Linked DNA regions of Homo sapiens: region 1 is linked to region 2. The links come from fine-mapping of genetic effects on gene expression. Tissue or cell type: whole blood. Region 2 holds a variant in brackets; the other region holds the start of a gene. All regions are shown on one strand. Distances are between the middles of the regions.

Region 1 (8,107 bases), 230 kb after region 2:
CTTAAGGGAAGGAATGTAATACATCCACAGCTGAACATCTTACAAGACTTAACCAAACGACCAGTACAAATGATGCCCTAGTAGACACACACACATACCTTATATAGCTTGGTAAACAGGACTCAGTGGCCAGCTTAGTTAATTCCTCATTTTACCACGAGGAAAAAATGCTCTCTAAAAAGCATTTGCTAGATAAATACTTGCTTACAAGTCAAAATTAGTGCATCTTAACCATTTTGCACACAAATTCAAAGATCTTTTTCTCCCAACTCTGACCTGCTGTCAATCAAAGGGGCTGGGGTAAGTCAAAGTTGGATGAAGTTATAAGAAGCCACTATTTCCCACTTTACCGCCCAGGCACACACAAACATTTGCTGAGTCATTGATAATAGTGCAAGAATTCAGATCCCATGGCATGAATTATGGATGGAGTATCAGCCTTTCCCTTTGAGTTTCCTGGCATTTGATGGTCCATATCACAATAAAAACATACTTCTGAGTCTGTGAATGTCTTGGGTGTCTTCTCTCATTCTCTCTCTCTCTGGGTGTGTGTGCATGTATGTGTCTGTCTGTCTCTGTGTCACTCTCTTAATAATAGTCTTTTAACTCCTTCAAAAAGAGTTTTGATCATAAAGCCTCAATCTAACCTGATAATGCACAGAAACTTTTTCTTTCCTGAGATTTCATATGTTCTATATATTTCAATATGCTTATTTCCTCTTAAGCAACATTAAAATCATCTATTTGGAACTGACTATAGATTTTTTTGAGACTTCGAGGGACTATGAGAATTTTATAGTAAAACCAAATTCTTTCTTTTGACATTTTTAACAACAGAGCAGAATGGTAATATACTTATTATACACAGAGATTGAAAAAAAATCAAGAAAATCTGAAAAAAATAAAGCACCAATTCCCTGGAATTTTCATCTACTCAGCCCTCACTGAACCCTATTAAATTAAAAAAATTATGATTACTTTCATTTTTTAAACAGAAATGGGAATATGGCTCCTACGTGTGACTTCCCTGAGATCTGCGAAAGGCAGTTCCAAGAATACAACCTAGGCCATCTAACTATAACCCAGTACAACAATTTATCCCCTCCATGAATGAGTCTCCCTGCTGCAGGCATGAAGATGGTGGTAGCTTTCAGACTCTCCTGAGGATTCAGAAATTCCCCAACCCTTCTCCCACCTACCTCACTCTGCAAGCTAGGAGAGCTCACCACCAAGCCCACATCCCACCTTAGGTGAGACTCGCACTGCACATCCCTACCCTTCCCCAGCCACCACACCTTTCCAACCATTAGAGGTAGATGTAATTGGGGGTTTAGGTCTTGAAAGGTTTCACTGTGGCTTCCCACATATTTTGGACTTTTAAAATCATCCACAAGGGAAGAAAAAGTTGAGGGCCAAGTTGCCTTTAATACACATGTGGCTATTAAGTTAACTTGGAATGTTCCTTCTTTAAATAGGAACTCTTAGGCCTCTTCTTTTTGAGGAATGCTTGGAAAGGACATTAAATAACAATGACGAAAATTCTTCCTGAGCTTCAGAGGGCACCCCCACCCCTTTGCTGGCCATTCACACTATTGACATGCAACTACACTCTATAACATGTGGCTGGCTTAACGAGGTAATCGTGCACAGATGATATGCTCTATGCTGAAGTTGGAGTGGTTATATTTCTTCTTGGCTATTTTTCAACAGACTGTACTGAAACTTTAAAAATTTGATCAGTTTAAACAGGCTGTTTTCAAATGATAAATCTATAATGCATTGTTTCTAAAGCCGATCTTTGCACCACAAACAGATATGCTTATCTTGAACCCATGCTCTGAAGCATCAACAACTTAAAGGAATCTACTCATTGGTAACACCAATGTCAAATGATGCGGCATTACAGAATACAAAAATGGTATGGCCCTAGAATCACTCTCTTTATATAAAATGGGAACTGGAGGTATTAACAAAAAAGCCACTAAACAACATAGATTCCAAATGAAAGCACAGTGAATTAGTTGGGTCTTTAGTGAAGCTAAGTAGCACTATATTAAGAAATGGAGATATGCTTAGGTTTATTGGCCATATTCAACATCTGCACACACCCAGGGAGAATAAAGCCTATTCTTTCCTTGTCCTGACCTCACTCCCTCAGGCTGCATGTTCCTTGGGTAATGAGAAGTCACAATCACTATTCATAGATGTGTGGGGAGTCACTAAAAATATATTATTCACTGTCAATCTTAGTTTATATCCAGATACAACAGGGTACACTGCTCTTGTAATGGAATCAGACTTCTTATTTTAACAAGACAAACCAAATCCAATCCACATTTGAAGATTATAGGTTTTAATATAAGAAAATGCACTCATTTCTCAAAGACCCTAGTGAAGCTGTGTTTAAATGCTCCTAGGTGAACCCCCTTTGCATCCCAGTGTTCCCACCCTGACACCCAGAGCCCCTACCTACCCAACACAGAATCATTTGCTCTGATAGAACAATGGATCCCTTTTTCTGGAAACATTGATGGCCACTCCTCCCTTGTCCTTGCCTATATAAAACTCCTACATATATTAAGAGAAAACTAAGCAAGAGTTTTGGAAATCTGCCCCAGGAGACTGCATCCTGAGTCACACGCGTCTTTGTTCTCTTTCTTGTCCCAAAACCGTTACCTCAAGTGACAAATGATCAAATCTCAAATATAGAATTCAGGGTTTTACAGGTAGGCATCTTGAGGATTTCAAATGGTTAAAAGCAACTCACTCCTTTTCTACTCTTTGGAGAGTTTCAAGAGCCTATAGCCTCTAAAACGCAAATCATTGCTAAGGGTTGGGGGGGAGAAACCTTTTCGAATTTTTTAGGAATTCCTGCTGTTTGCCTCTTCAGCTACCTACTTCCTAAAAAGGATGTATGTCAGTGGACAGAACAGGGCAAACTTATTCGAAAAAGAAATAAGAAATAATTGCCAGTGTGTTTATAAATGATATGAATCAGGAGTGGTGCGAAGAGGATAGGGAAAAAAAAATTCTATTTGGTGCTGGAAATACTGCGCTTTTTTTTTTCCTTTTTTTTTTTTTCTGTGAGCTGGAGTGTGCCAGCTTTTTCAGACGGAGGAATGCTGAGTGTCAAGGGGTCAGGATCAATCCGGTGTGAGTTGATGAGGCAGGAAGGTGGGGAGGAATGCGAGGAATGTCCCTGTTTGTGTAGGACTCCATTCAGCTCATTGGCGAGCCGCGGCCGCCCGGAGCGTATAAAAGCCTCGGGCCGCCCGCCCCAAACTCACACAACAACTCTTCCCCGCTGAGAGGAGACAGCCAGTGCGACTCCACCCTCCAGCTCGACGGCAGCCGCCCCGGCCGACAGCCCCGAGACGACAGCCCGGCGCGTCCCGGTCCCCACCTCCGACCACCGCCAGCGCTCCAGGCCCCGCCGCTCCCCGCTCGCCGCCACCGCGCCCTCCGCTCCGCCCGCAGTGCCAACCATGACCGCCGCCAGTATGGGCCCCGTCCGCGTCGCCTTCGTGGTCCTCCTCGCCCTCTGCAGCCGGGTAAGCGCCGGGAGCCCCCGCTGCGGCCGGCGGCTGCCAGGGAGGGACTCGGGGCCGGCCGGGGAGGGCGTGCGCGCCGACCGAGCGCCGCTGACCGCCCTGTCCTCCCTGCAGCCGGCCGTCGGCCAGAACTGCAGCGGGCCGTGCCGGTGCCCGGACGAGCCGGCGCCGCGCTGCCCGGCGGGCGTGAGCCTCGTGCTGGACGGCTGCGGCTGCTGCCGCGTCTGCGCCAAGCAGCTGGGCGAGCTGTGCACCGAGCGCGACCCATGCGACCCGCACAAGGGCCTATTCTGTCACTTCGGCTCCCCGGCCAACCGCAAGATCGGCGTGTGCACCGGTAAGACCCGCAGCCCCCACCGCTAGGTGTCCGGCCGCCTCCTCCCTCACGCCCACCCGCCCGCTGGAAAAAGAAACCGCTCGGACTGAGTTTCTTTCTCCAGCTGCTGCCAGCCCGCCCCCTGCAGCCCAGATCCCAACTCGCATCCCTGACGCTCTGGATGTGAGAGTGCCCCAATGCCTGACCTCTGCATCCCCCACCCCTCTCTTCCCTTCCTCTTCTCCAGCCAAAGATGGTGCTCCCTGCATCTTCGGTGGTACGGTGTACCGCAGCGGAGAGTCCTTCCAGAGCAGCTGCAAGTACCAGTGCACGTGCCTGGACGGGGCGGTGGGCTGCATGCCCCTGTGCAGCATGGACGTTCGTCTGCCCAGCCCTGACTGCCCCTTCCCGAGGAGGGTCAAGCTGCCCGGGAAATGCTGCGAGGAGTGGGTGTGTGACGAGCCCAAGGACCAAACCGTGGTTGGGCCTGCCCTCGCGGGTGAGTCGAGTCTTCCTCTAAGTCAGGGTCGTGATTCTCTCCCAGGGAGGGAGTCCTAACTGTGCCGACCGAACGGGGGAAATACCTTATCCAGGCGTTTTACATGGTGTTTGTGTGCTCTGCTCTCGCAGCTTACCGACTGGAAGACACGTTTGGCCCAGACCCAACTATGATTAGAGCCAACTGCCTGGTCCAGACCACAGAGTGGAGCGCCTGTTCCAAGACCTGTGGGATGGGCATCTCCACCCGGGTTACCAATGACAACGCCTCCTGCAGGCTAGAGAAGCAGAGCCGCCTGTGCATGGTCAGGCCTTGCGAAGCTGACCTGGAAGAGAACATTAAGGTACATGTTCTGCTCCTATTAACTATTTTTCACAGGAAAAACAGTGGATAGGACCCAACTTAGGGCTCTTGCCACGCTTGTTAGTATAAGCCCGTTATCTCCAAAACTATCTAACCATTGAGCTGTTTTGCTGGAATGAGAGCTTGTGTAATAGCAACCACCAGTTTTCCACTACGAAATCTTCCACAGGGTTAGTTAATTCAAGACATTCCAAGAGAGGCTCTGGCTATTTTTGGACATAGCAAATGAGACTCAAACTTCCTCCCCTCAAAATATAAACAGAAGTCAGACAACAGAAGACTAAAACACAGAGGGTTGAAGAAAGCCACTCCTCTTGTAGAGTCGCTGATTTTTTTTTTTCCTCTCTCTTTTCCCTTGTCTTCCTTAGAAGGGCAAAAAGTGCATCCGTACTCCCAAAATCTCCAAGCCTATCAAGTTTGAGCTTTCTGGCTGCACCAGCATGAAGACATACCGAGCTAAATTCTGTGGAGTATGTACCGACGGCCGATGCTGCACCCCCCACAGAACCACCACCCTGCCGGTGGAGTTCAAGTGCCCTGACGGCGAGGTCATGAAGAAGAACATGATGTTCATCAAGACCTGTGCCTGCCATTACAACTGTCCCGGAGACAATGACATCTTTGAATCGCTGTACTACAGGAAGATGTACGGAGACATGGCATGAAGCCAGAGAGTGAGAGACATTAACTCATTAGACTGGAACTTGAACTGATTCACATCTCATTTTTCCGTAAAAATGATTTCAGTAGCACAAGTTATTTAAATCTGTTTTTCTAACTGGGGGAAAAGATTCCCACCCAATTCAAAACATTGTGCCATGTCAAACAAATAGTCTATCAACCCCAGACACTGGTTTGAAGAATGTTAAGACTTGACAGTGGAACTACATTAGTACACAGCACCAGAATGTATATTAAGGTGTGGCTTTAGGAGCAGTGGGAGGGTACCAGCAGAAAGGTTAGTATCATCAGATAGCATCTTATACGAGTAATATGCCTGCTATTTGAAGTGTAATTGAGAAGGAAAATTTTAGCGTGCTCACTGACCTGCCTGTAGCCCCAGTGACAGCTAGGATGTGCATTCTCCAGCCATCAAGAGACTGAGTCAAGTTGTTCCTTAAGTCAGAACAGCAGACTCAGCTCTGACATTCTGATTCGAATGACACTGTTCAGGAATCGGAATCCTGTCGATTAGACTGGACAGCTTGTGGCAAGTGAATTTGCCTGTAACAAGCCAGATTTTTTAAAATTTATATTGTAAATATTGTGTGTGTGTGTGTGTGTGTATATATATATATATGTACAGTTATCTAAGTTAATTTAAAGTTGTTTGTGCCTTTTTATTTTTGTTTTTAATGCTTTGATATTTCAATGTTAGCCTCAATTTCTGAACACCATAGGTAGAATGTAAAGCTTGTCTGATCGTTCAAAGCATGAAATGGATACTTATATGGAAATTCTGCTCAGATAGAATGACAGTCCGTCAAAACAGATTGTTTGCAAAGGGGAGGCATCAGTGTCCTTGGCAGGCTGATTTCTAGGTAGGAAATGTGGTAGCCTCACTTTTAATGAACAAATGGCCTTTATTAAAAACTGAGTGACTCTATATAGCTGATCAGTTTTTTCACCTGGAAGCATTTGTTTCTACTTTGATATGACTGTTTTTCGGACAGTTTATTTGTTGAGAGTGTGACCAAAAGTTACATGTTTGCACCTTTCTAGTTGAAAATAAAGTGTATATTTTTTCTATAAAGGGCTTGGTTATTCATTTATCCTTCTAAACATTTCTGAGTTTTCTTGAGCATAAATAGGAAGTTCTTATTAATCATAAGATAATTCACCAATAATTTTCTAAATATCTTTAATTATTCTATACATTAATAAATTGATTATTCCATAGAATTTTTATGTAAACATACTTCACACTGAATCAAGTATCACAGACTTGCAGGCATACACACCACATTGACTATACAGCCATTTTTTTTGTTATCTTCACAGAACTTTATAGACACTTTAAATTCAATTCTCTCTAGATTACTTCAGTCTCCATTAACCCTGTTGTATTACACTTGGTCCTTTTGGCATTTGTACCTCTCTGGCCGTTATAGGTTAGTTTCCAACCCTTCACATCACAAACTAGTCTATGTGCCTTGCACGTGGAAAATGTTTACATTTTTTAAAAATTTTATGCTCTAGGTCTGTTTCTGAACTTCATTACCTTACTGTTAAATCTGAAAATTATGAAATGAAATCCTCATTTAAATGGAGCTATTTCATAAGTCTTGTTTTGTATAATTCCGTTTTTGGTTGCCATGATAACCAATGACAAACAGATGGCATAAATAGAAAAGGGAGGATGAGCAAATCTTCCATTCATTAACATTAATAGAAATTTGTTTTGAAAGTAATTCCTCCATTTGCCCAAGTCTTTAGCTTTATCAGACTTCCAGATTAATGCATCCTACCTTACCAAGTGGTTTATACATGAGAAAATGGAATTGTTCAAGAAGCCTCATGTGGAAACAATATTGTACCTACCCAGGTAGGTTTTTACTAAAGAGTGAACCAAAGTGAATGGTAAACAAAAGCAATACACCAAAGGCAACTAGAATCTTCTCCACATGAGGATAGCTGAGGATTCTAGGGGAAAAAAAAATTGCAGACAGACTAACTTTTCCCAAGGTAATTAGCAACGTTGTAGTGCCAATGTCATTTGGACAGACAAAAATACACCTGAAAATAAAGACTAGCTCTACAAACAACTGTCCACACCACAAACCAAAGGGAAAACTTCCCGTGTTCAGAATGTGAAAATTTATGGTCAAAACTCTGGGCTTTAAGGATACACCCACATCTGTATATAGCAGTGCTGCCAGGAGCAGCACCCCACCTCCCCAAATAAATGCGCATGTACACATACACATAGGCACACACACAGAGTACACTGTTAGTTCACACTTCCTTTCTGTCAATTAATTCCTAACTGCAAAGATGAAGGGCCATGCATGATAAACGAGACTGACTACTGAATTAGAGCATTCTGGAAATATAGAAGCAGCAGGAAAAGCATAGATTTCACATTTTCCAAATACCCACATTAAAGAAAAAAAAAAGAGTCACTAGATTGCAAAACAAAAATCCCACAGGCAATGTTTCTACAAAAATTAGATGGCAATGCACACTTTCACCCCCCAAATATCGGAGGTAGGGGGTGCCAAATCATCAACCACCGTAAGATCTGCACCGTGTCAGCACATGTGTGAGAAAAGCAGAGAAACAACAAGGTATCTGATGCTTCTGAGAACACGAGAGCTCTCAAACAGCCAGCAGGTAGTCACTAGATATATAGAAGGCCAGGCTGACAGCAGCTGTTGA
Region 2 (8,107 bases):
ATAAAACTGTCCCATTATACTGTTAAATTGCATTACCGCATTGTTAATGATTAAAACATCTTCCATATACTTTTGGTCATCTAGTCTTTCTCCTCTGGAAAAAAAAATGCCTTTTGATGCTTTTCTGTTAGGTCGTTGGTCTATTCTTATAGCCACTAAGAGTTTTATTAGAAGATATTAGGAGATATTTGGTTTTTTTATCTTTTGTTAATATATGGCTGATATATTTTTCTAATTTGTGGCTTGTATTTTACTTGTTGTGATTTCTTATAATTAATGGTAATTCTTCATTTTAATGAGTCAAAGTTATTAAATTTGTATTTTTTAGTGGGTACTTTTTGTGTCTTGTTGAAGAAATCTTTTCCTAGCCCCATGACTATAAAGAAACTCTCCTTGTTTTCTTCTAAAATTGGGTAATCTACCTTTTCAAATTTAAGAATTTAATCAATCTGAAATTGATTTGTGGAAATTGTGTATGATAAGGTTCTAGTTTCATATTCTTTGAAATGAATAATCCACTCAACCAGCATCATATATTGAGTGGTCCCAACTTTCCCATTGATCTGCCTTCTCAATCACAGCATTTCCATATGTGTATGGGTCTATTTGTATTTTCTCATTTCTATTATCAGTATCCTTTTTGTTTGCAAACCAATACCACACTGGCATTGCCATGGCTTTTTAAAAAGTCTTGCTGTCTCCTGGGGAAATCGCACACTATTTTTATCTCAGGGATCTCTTAACTAATCTTGGGCTTTTCTTTTCTTTCATCAATATCAGAATCGGATTCTCAAGTTTCTTTAAAAAATTCTATGAAATTCAAATTAAAATTGCATGTATGCTATTTGGTGATATTGACTTCCTTGTAATAGCAAGTCTTCCTTGAAAGTGGCAAAATTTAAACTTATTTATGTCTCTTTTAATGTCTCAATAATATTGAAAAGTTTCCTCCATGAACTCTTTATATTTTTGGTACATATGTTTTTACACATCTTATATTTTGTGTTAATATAATAAATGGTGTTTATTTTAAAATGCTATTTCCAACTCTTTATTCCAAGTATACAGTTTCTGTATATTAATTTTTTTCAGCACTTGGCTATATTGTCTTACTAATTCTATGGATTCCTTTGAGTTTTTCTATCTGTCAATTAAAAAGATTTTAGTTGTTTTCCCAAACCTCAGAATTTTTATTTCTTTTTGTCTTATTTGACTGTCTTAGAATTCCATGCTGAATGGGAGTGCTGTTCTTGTTTCTGATTTTTTTCCCAGTTCTATTTTTTGTGTATTTCAATAGGTTTTTGGGGAATAGGTGGTGTTTGGTTACATGAATAAGTTCTTTAGTGGTGATTACTGAGATTTTGGTGCACCCATCACTGAGGCAGTGTACACTGTATCCAATGTGTATTTATCCCTCACTCACTCCCACCCACTCCCTGAATATATATATATATATATATATACACATATATACATCTATATACATATATACATGTGTGTGTATACATATATATCACAATTTGTTTATCTGCTCATTGATTGATGGGGCATTTGGGCTGGTTTCATATTTTTGCAATTGCAAATTGTGCTGCTGTAAACATGCGTGTGCAAGTATCTTTTCGGTATAATGACTTCTTTTCCTCTAGGTAAATATCCAGTCATGGCATTGCTGGATCAAATGAGTTCTACTTTTAGTTCTTTAAAGAACCTCCACACTGTTTTTCATAGTAGTTGTACTAGTTTACATTTCTACCAGCAGTGTAAAAATGCTCCCTTTTCACCACATCCATGGCAACATCTATTATTTTATAATTTTTTTTATTATGGCCAGTCTTGCAGGAGTAAGGTGGTATTGCATTGTGGATTTGATTTGCATTTCCATGATCATTAGGGATGTTGATGATTTTTTCATACTTTTTTTTGCCACTTGTATATCTTCTTTTGAGAATTATCTCCTTCATGTCCTTAGCCCACTTTTTGATGGGATTGTTTGTTTTCTTCTTGCTGATTTGTTTGAGTTCCTTGTAGGTTCTGGGTATTAATCCTTTGTCAGGTGTATAGATTGTGAAGATTTTCTCCCATTCTGCAGGTTGTCTGTTTACTCTACTGATTTTTTCCATTGCTGTGCAGAAGCTTTTTAGTTTAATTAAGTCCCATCTATTTATCTTTGTTTATGTTACATTTGCTTTTGGTTTCTTGGTCATGAAGTCTTTGCCTAAGCCAACGTCTAGAAGGGCTTTTCTGATTTTATCTTCTAGAATTTTTGTGGTTTCAGATCTTAGATTTAAGACTTTGATCCATCTTGAGTTGATTTTTGTATACAGTTATACAACTAGATAAACTAGATAAAAATCTGGTTTCATTCTCCCACATGTGGCTAGCCAATTATCCCAGCACCATTTGTTGAACAGGGTGTTTTTTTCCCCACTTTATGTTTTTGTTTGCTTTATCAAGATCAGTTGACTGTAAGTATATGGCTTTATTTCTGGGTTCTCTATTCTGTTCCATTGTTCTATGTGCCTATTTTTATGCCGGTACCATGCTGTTTTGGTGACTGTGGCCTTATAGTATAGTTTGAAGTTGGATAATGTAATGCCTCCAGATTTGTTCTTTTTGCTTAGTCTTGCTTTTGCTATGCAGGCTCTTTTTTGGTTCCATATGAATTTTAGGATTGTCTTTTTTTTCTAGTTCTGTGAAGAATGATGGTGATATTTGGATGGAAATTGCATTGAATTTGTAGATTGCTTTTGGCAGTATGATCATTTTCACAATATTGATTCTACCCTTCCATTAGCATGGGATGTGTTTCCATTCGTTTGTGTCATCTATGATTTCTTTCAGCGGTGTTTTTTAGTTTTACTTGTAGCAGTCTTTCACTCCTTGGTTGGGTATATTCCTAAGTTTTTTTGTTTTGTTTTGTTTTGTTTTGTTTTGTTTTGTTTGCAGCTATTGTAAAAAAGTTGAGATCTGGATTTTATTCTCAGCTTGGTCACTGTTGGTGTATAGCAGAGCTACTGATTTATGTATATTAATTTTGTGTCCTGAAACTTTGCTGAATTCATTGATCAGTTCTAGGAGCTTTTTGGACGAGTCTTCAGGGTTTTCTAGCTATATGATCGTATCATCAGCAAACAGTAACCGTTTGACTTCCTCTTTACTGATTTGGATGTATTTCTTTCTCTTTTGTCTGATTGCTCTGGCTAGAACTTCCAGTAGTACTATGTTGAATAGAAGTGGTGAAAGTGGGCATCCTTGTCTTGTTCCAGTTCTCAGGGGGAATGTTTTCAACTTTTTCCCATTCAGTATAATGTTGGCTGTGGGTTTGTCATAGATGGCTTTTCTTAGGTTAAGGTATGTCCCTTCTATGCCAATTTTGCTGAAAGTTTTAATCACAGTTGGATGCCGGATTTTGTCAAATGCTTTTTCTGAGTCTATTGAGACAATCATGTGATTTTTGTTTTTAATTCTGTTTATGTGGTGTATCACATTTATTGACTTGCATATGTCATATGTTAAACCATCCCTGAATCCCTGGTATGAAACCCTCTTGATCATGGTGGATTATCTGATTATCTTTTTGATATGTTGTTGGATTCGGTTAGCTAGTATTTTGTTAAGGGCTTTTGCATGTATGTTCATCAGGGATACTGATCTGTAGTTTTCTTTTTTGTAATGAC[C/A]TTTCCTAGTTTTGATATTAGGATGATACTGGCTTAATAGCATGATTTGGGTGGGGGCGGATACCCTCTTTCTCTGTCTTGTGGAATAGTGTCAATAGGATTGGTACCAATTCTTCTTAGAATGTCTGGTAGAATTCATCTGTGAATCCATCTGGTCCTGAACTTTTCTTTGTTGACAGTTTTTTTAATACCATCTCAATCTCGCTGCTTATTTTTCTGTTCAGAGTTTCTATTTCTTCCTGGTTGAATCTAAGATAGTTGCATATTTCCAGGAATTTATCCATCTCCTCTAGGTTTTCTAGTTTATGTGCATAAAGGTGTTCACAGCAGCCTTGAATGATCTTTTGCATTTCTGTGGTATTGATTGTAATGTCTCCTGTTTTGTTTCTAATTGAGCTTATTTGGATCTTCGCTCTTCTTTTCTTGGTTAATCTCTCTAACTGTCTATCAATTTTGTTGATCCTTTTAAAGAACCAGCTTTTTGTTTCATTTATCTTTGTTTTTGTTTTGTTTCAATTTCATTTAGTTCTGCTCTGATCTTGGTTATTTCTTTTCATCTGCTGGGTTGGGGCTTGATTTGTTCTTGTTTCTCCAGTTCCTTGAGGTATAAGCTTAGGTTGTCTCTTTGTATTCTCAGATTTTTTCATATAGGCAATTAAGGCTATCAACTTTCCTCTTAGCACCACCTTTGCTCTAACCCAGAGGTTTTGATAAGTTGTGTCACTATTATTGTTCAGTTCAAAGAATTTTTTAATTTCCATCTTGATTTCATGGGTGACCCAATGAACATTTTGTGGCCTATCATATGGTCTATCTCAGAGAATGTTAAGTATGCTGATGAATAGAATGTATATTCTGCAATTGTTGGGTAGAATGTTCTGTAAATATCTGTTAAGTCCATTTGTTCTAAGGTATAGTTTAAATCTATTGTTTGTTGATTTTCCATCTTGATGACCTGTCTAGTGCTGTTAGTGGAGTATTAAAGTGCCCCAGTATTATTGTGTTGCTGTCTATCTAATTTCTTAGGTGTACTAGTAATTGTCTTATAAATTTGGGAGCTCCAATGTTAGGTGCATATATATTTAGGAATGTGATAAATATCACATATTGGACTAGTCCTTTTATCATTATATAATGTCCCTCTTTATCTTTTTTAACCACTGTTGCTTTAAAGTTTGTTTTGTCTGATATAAGAGTAGCTACTTCTGCTCACTTTTGGAGTCCATCTGCATCTTTTTCCACCCCTTTAGCTTAAGTTTATGTGAGTCCTTATGTGTTAGGTGAGTCTCCTGAAGACAGCAGATACTTGGTTGGTGAACTCTTATTCCTTCTGCCATTCTGTTTATTTTAAGTGGAGCATTTAGGCCATTTGTATTCAATGTTAGTATCGAGATGGGTGGTACTATTCTATTCATCATGCTATTTGTTGCCTGGATATCTTTTTTCCCCCATTATGTTTTTGTTTTATAGGTCCTGTGAAATTCATGCTTTAAGGAGGTTCTATTTTTGTGTACTTCAAGGATTTGTTTCAAGTTTTAGAGCTCCTTTTAGCAGTTCTTGTAGTGCTGGCTTGGTAGTGGCAAACTCTCTCAGCATTTGTTTGTTTGAAAAATATGGTATCTTTCCTTCACTTATGAAGCTTAGTTTTGCTAGACACAAAATTCTTGACTGATCATTATTTTGTTTAAGAAGGCTAAAGATGTGGCCCCAATCCCTTCTAGTTTGTAGGGTTTCTGCTGAGAAATCTGCTGTTAAACTGATAGATTTTCCTTTATAGGTTACCTGATGCTTTTCCCTCACAGCTCCTAAGATTCTTTCCTTCATCTTGACTTTAGATAACCTGATGAGTATGTGCCTAGGTAATGATCTTTTTGCAATAGATTTATCAGTGTTCTTTGAGCTTCTTGTATTTGGATGACTAGATTGCTAGCAAGGCTGGGGAAGTTTTCTTCAGGATGACAAGATCTCTAGCAAGGCTGGGGAAGTTTTTCTTCAATTATTCCTCAAATATGGTTTCCAAACTTTTATATTTCTCTTCTTCCTCAGAAACACCACTTATTCTTAGGTTTGGTCATTTAACATAATCCCAAACTCCTTGGAGGCTTTGTTCATTTTTTTAATCCTTTTTTATTTGTCTTTGTTAGATTGAGCTAATTTGAAAGCCTTGTCTTCAAACTCTGAAGTTCTTTCTTCTACTTATTCAATTCTATCACTGAGATTTTCCAGTGTATTTTGCATTTCTCTGAGTCCTTCATTTCCAGATATTGTGATTGCTTTCTTCTGCTTCTTTTTTTTTTTTTTTTTTTTTTTTTGAGATTGAGTTTTGCTCTTGTTGCCCAGGCTGGAGTGCAATGGCATGATCTTGACTAACTGCAACCTCTGCCTCAAGGATTCAAACAATTCTCCTGCCTCAGCCTCCCAAGAAGCTGGGATTACCATGTGCCACCACGCCCAACTAATTTTGTATTTTTAGTAGATACGAGGTTTGACCATGTTGGCCAGGCTGGTCTCGAACTCCTGATCTCAGGTGATCCAACTGCCTAATTTTCCCAAAGTGCTGGGATTACAGGTGTGAGCCACTGTGCCTGGCCTGTTTTTTATTTATGCTATCTATTTCACTGAAAAATTTTTCCTTCATATCTTGTATCATTTTTTTTATTTCATTAAGTTGGACTTCACCTTTCTCTGGTGCCTGCTTGATTAACTTAATAATTGACCTTCTGAATTCTTTTTCTGGTAATTCAGAGATTTCTTCTTGGTTTTGATCCATTGCTGTGAGCTAATGTGATCTTTGGGGGATGTTAAGGAACCTTATTTTGTCATATTGCCAGAATTGTTTTTCTGGCTCCTTCTCTTTTGTGTAGACAAATCTGGGGCTCAAGGGCTGCTGTTCAGATTCTTTTGTCCCATGGGGTGCTCCCTTGATGTGGTGCTCTCCCCCTTCCCCTAGGGATGTGGCTTTCTGAGAGCCAAACTGCAGTGATTGCTATTTCTCTTCTGGACTCAGCCACCCAGAGAAGCTGCTGGGCTCCAGGCTAGAAGTGGTGAGTGTCTGCTCAGAGTCCTGTGATGTGAACCATCTTTGGGTCTCTCAGCCGTAGGTACAAGCACCTGCTCCAGTGGAGATGGCAGGGGAGTGAAGTGGACTCTCTGAGGGTCCTTGGCTGCAGTTTTGTTTATTTCACTAGTTTTGTGTTCACTGGCCTCCAGCCAGGAGATGGTACTTTCAGGAGAGCATCAGCTGCAGTAGTATAGAGAGGATCAGGCAGTGGGTGAGGCTATAGAGCTCCCAAGAGATTATGTCCTTTGTCTTTGGCTACCAGGGTAGGCAGAGAAAAACCATCAGGTGAGTGCAAGGTTAGGTGTGTCTGAGCTCAGGCTTTCCTTGGGCAGTGCTTCCTCTGGCTGTTGTGGGGGATCAAAGTGTGGTTCCCCAGCTGATGGAGTTGTTTCCACAGGGATTATGGCTGCCTCTGCTGCCTCATGCAGGTTGCCAGGGAAGTGGGGAAAAGCAGGCAGTCACAGACCTCACCCAGCTCCCACGCAGCCCAAATGATTGGTCTCCCTCCCACCATGTCCCGTCAACAGCACCAAGTTTATTTCCAGGCAGCAGGTGAGCAAGGCTGAGAACTTGCCCCAGGCTACCCACCTCCCAGCTGAGAAAGCAAGCAGGGTTTCAGGTCTTGCCTCTCTGCCTGCCATGGCCTCTGTGCTGTGTCTGTACTTCCAATTCACCCCTCCCCCAGGTTCTGTCCAGGAAACTTTGCCTTCTGTCAAAATGTTTACAAAGTTAAGCTGGAAGTTTTATTCTCCCCGTGGTCTTTTCCTAGGTCCTCTGGCAGCCCTCCCCAAGGACCCCTGACAGGGAGAGCTCACAGGGCTTTCCTTGCTGTTGTTTCTAACCCTGTATTTTGCTCAGCTCTCTAAATTTGTCTCAGCTCCAGGTAAGGTCAAATCCTTCTCCCATGATATGGACCTTCAGGCTCCCCACTGAGGGTGTGTATTCCGACACCCATGATCCCACTTTCACACTTTGGGCACTCATAGTTTTTCAGCTGTCTCCAGGGGCCTGCAGCAGCACTCCGCTTCCTTCAAAGGATCTGTGAATTCTCTCAGCTTTCCTGGTATGTTCTTGTGGTAGTTCTTGGAGCAAAAGTTCATGATGTGAGTCTCCACACGCTGCTCTGTCAATCCAAGTGGGAGCTGCAAGTTAGTCCTGCCTCCTGTCTGCCATTTTTTTCCTCCCCTTGTTTCTAATTTTAAAGGGAGCACTTTTACTATTTTGCCTCAAAGGTTGATGTTTGATGTAGATTTTCTGTTGAAGATTTTTATCAGATTATGGAAATCCTCTTTTATTTCTAGTTTACTAAAAGTGATTTTAAGATTATAAATAATTCTTGAATTTTAGCTATTATTTTCTCTATTTACCG

The links. PIP is the estimated chance that this variant, and not a neighbour inherited with it, causes the effect.
Region 1: CCN2 starts here. The variant in region 2 is fine-mapped to the expression of CCN2 in whole blood (INTERVAL, PIP 0.91).

What each region holds. Positions count from the first base shown.
Region 1 is chr6:131,946,551-131,954,657 of GRCh38, reverse strand. CCN2 (cellular communication network factor 2) reads left to right here and starts at 3,286. Exons shown (of 5, transcript NM_001901.4): 1 at 3,286-3,551; 2 at 3,666-3,888; 3 at 4,115-4,366; 4 at 4,498-4,709; 5 at 5,098-6,482. The coding sequence starts at 3,486. The coding sequence ends at 5,394. All of the region lies in intron 2 of CCN2-AS1 (CCN2 antisense RNA 1), which reads right to left.
Region 2 is chr6:132,179,353-132,187,459 of GRCh38, reverse strand. No RefSeq gene overlaps it. Among named protein-coding and RNA genes, the nearest start is that of LINC01013, 51 kb to the right of the region's middle. The variant C/A (reference allele first, on the strand shown) is at 3,678.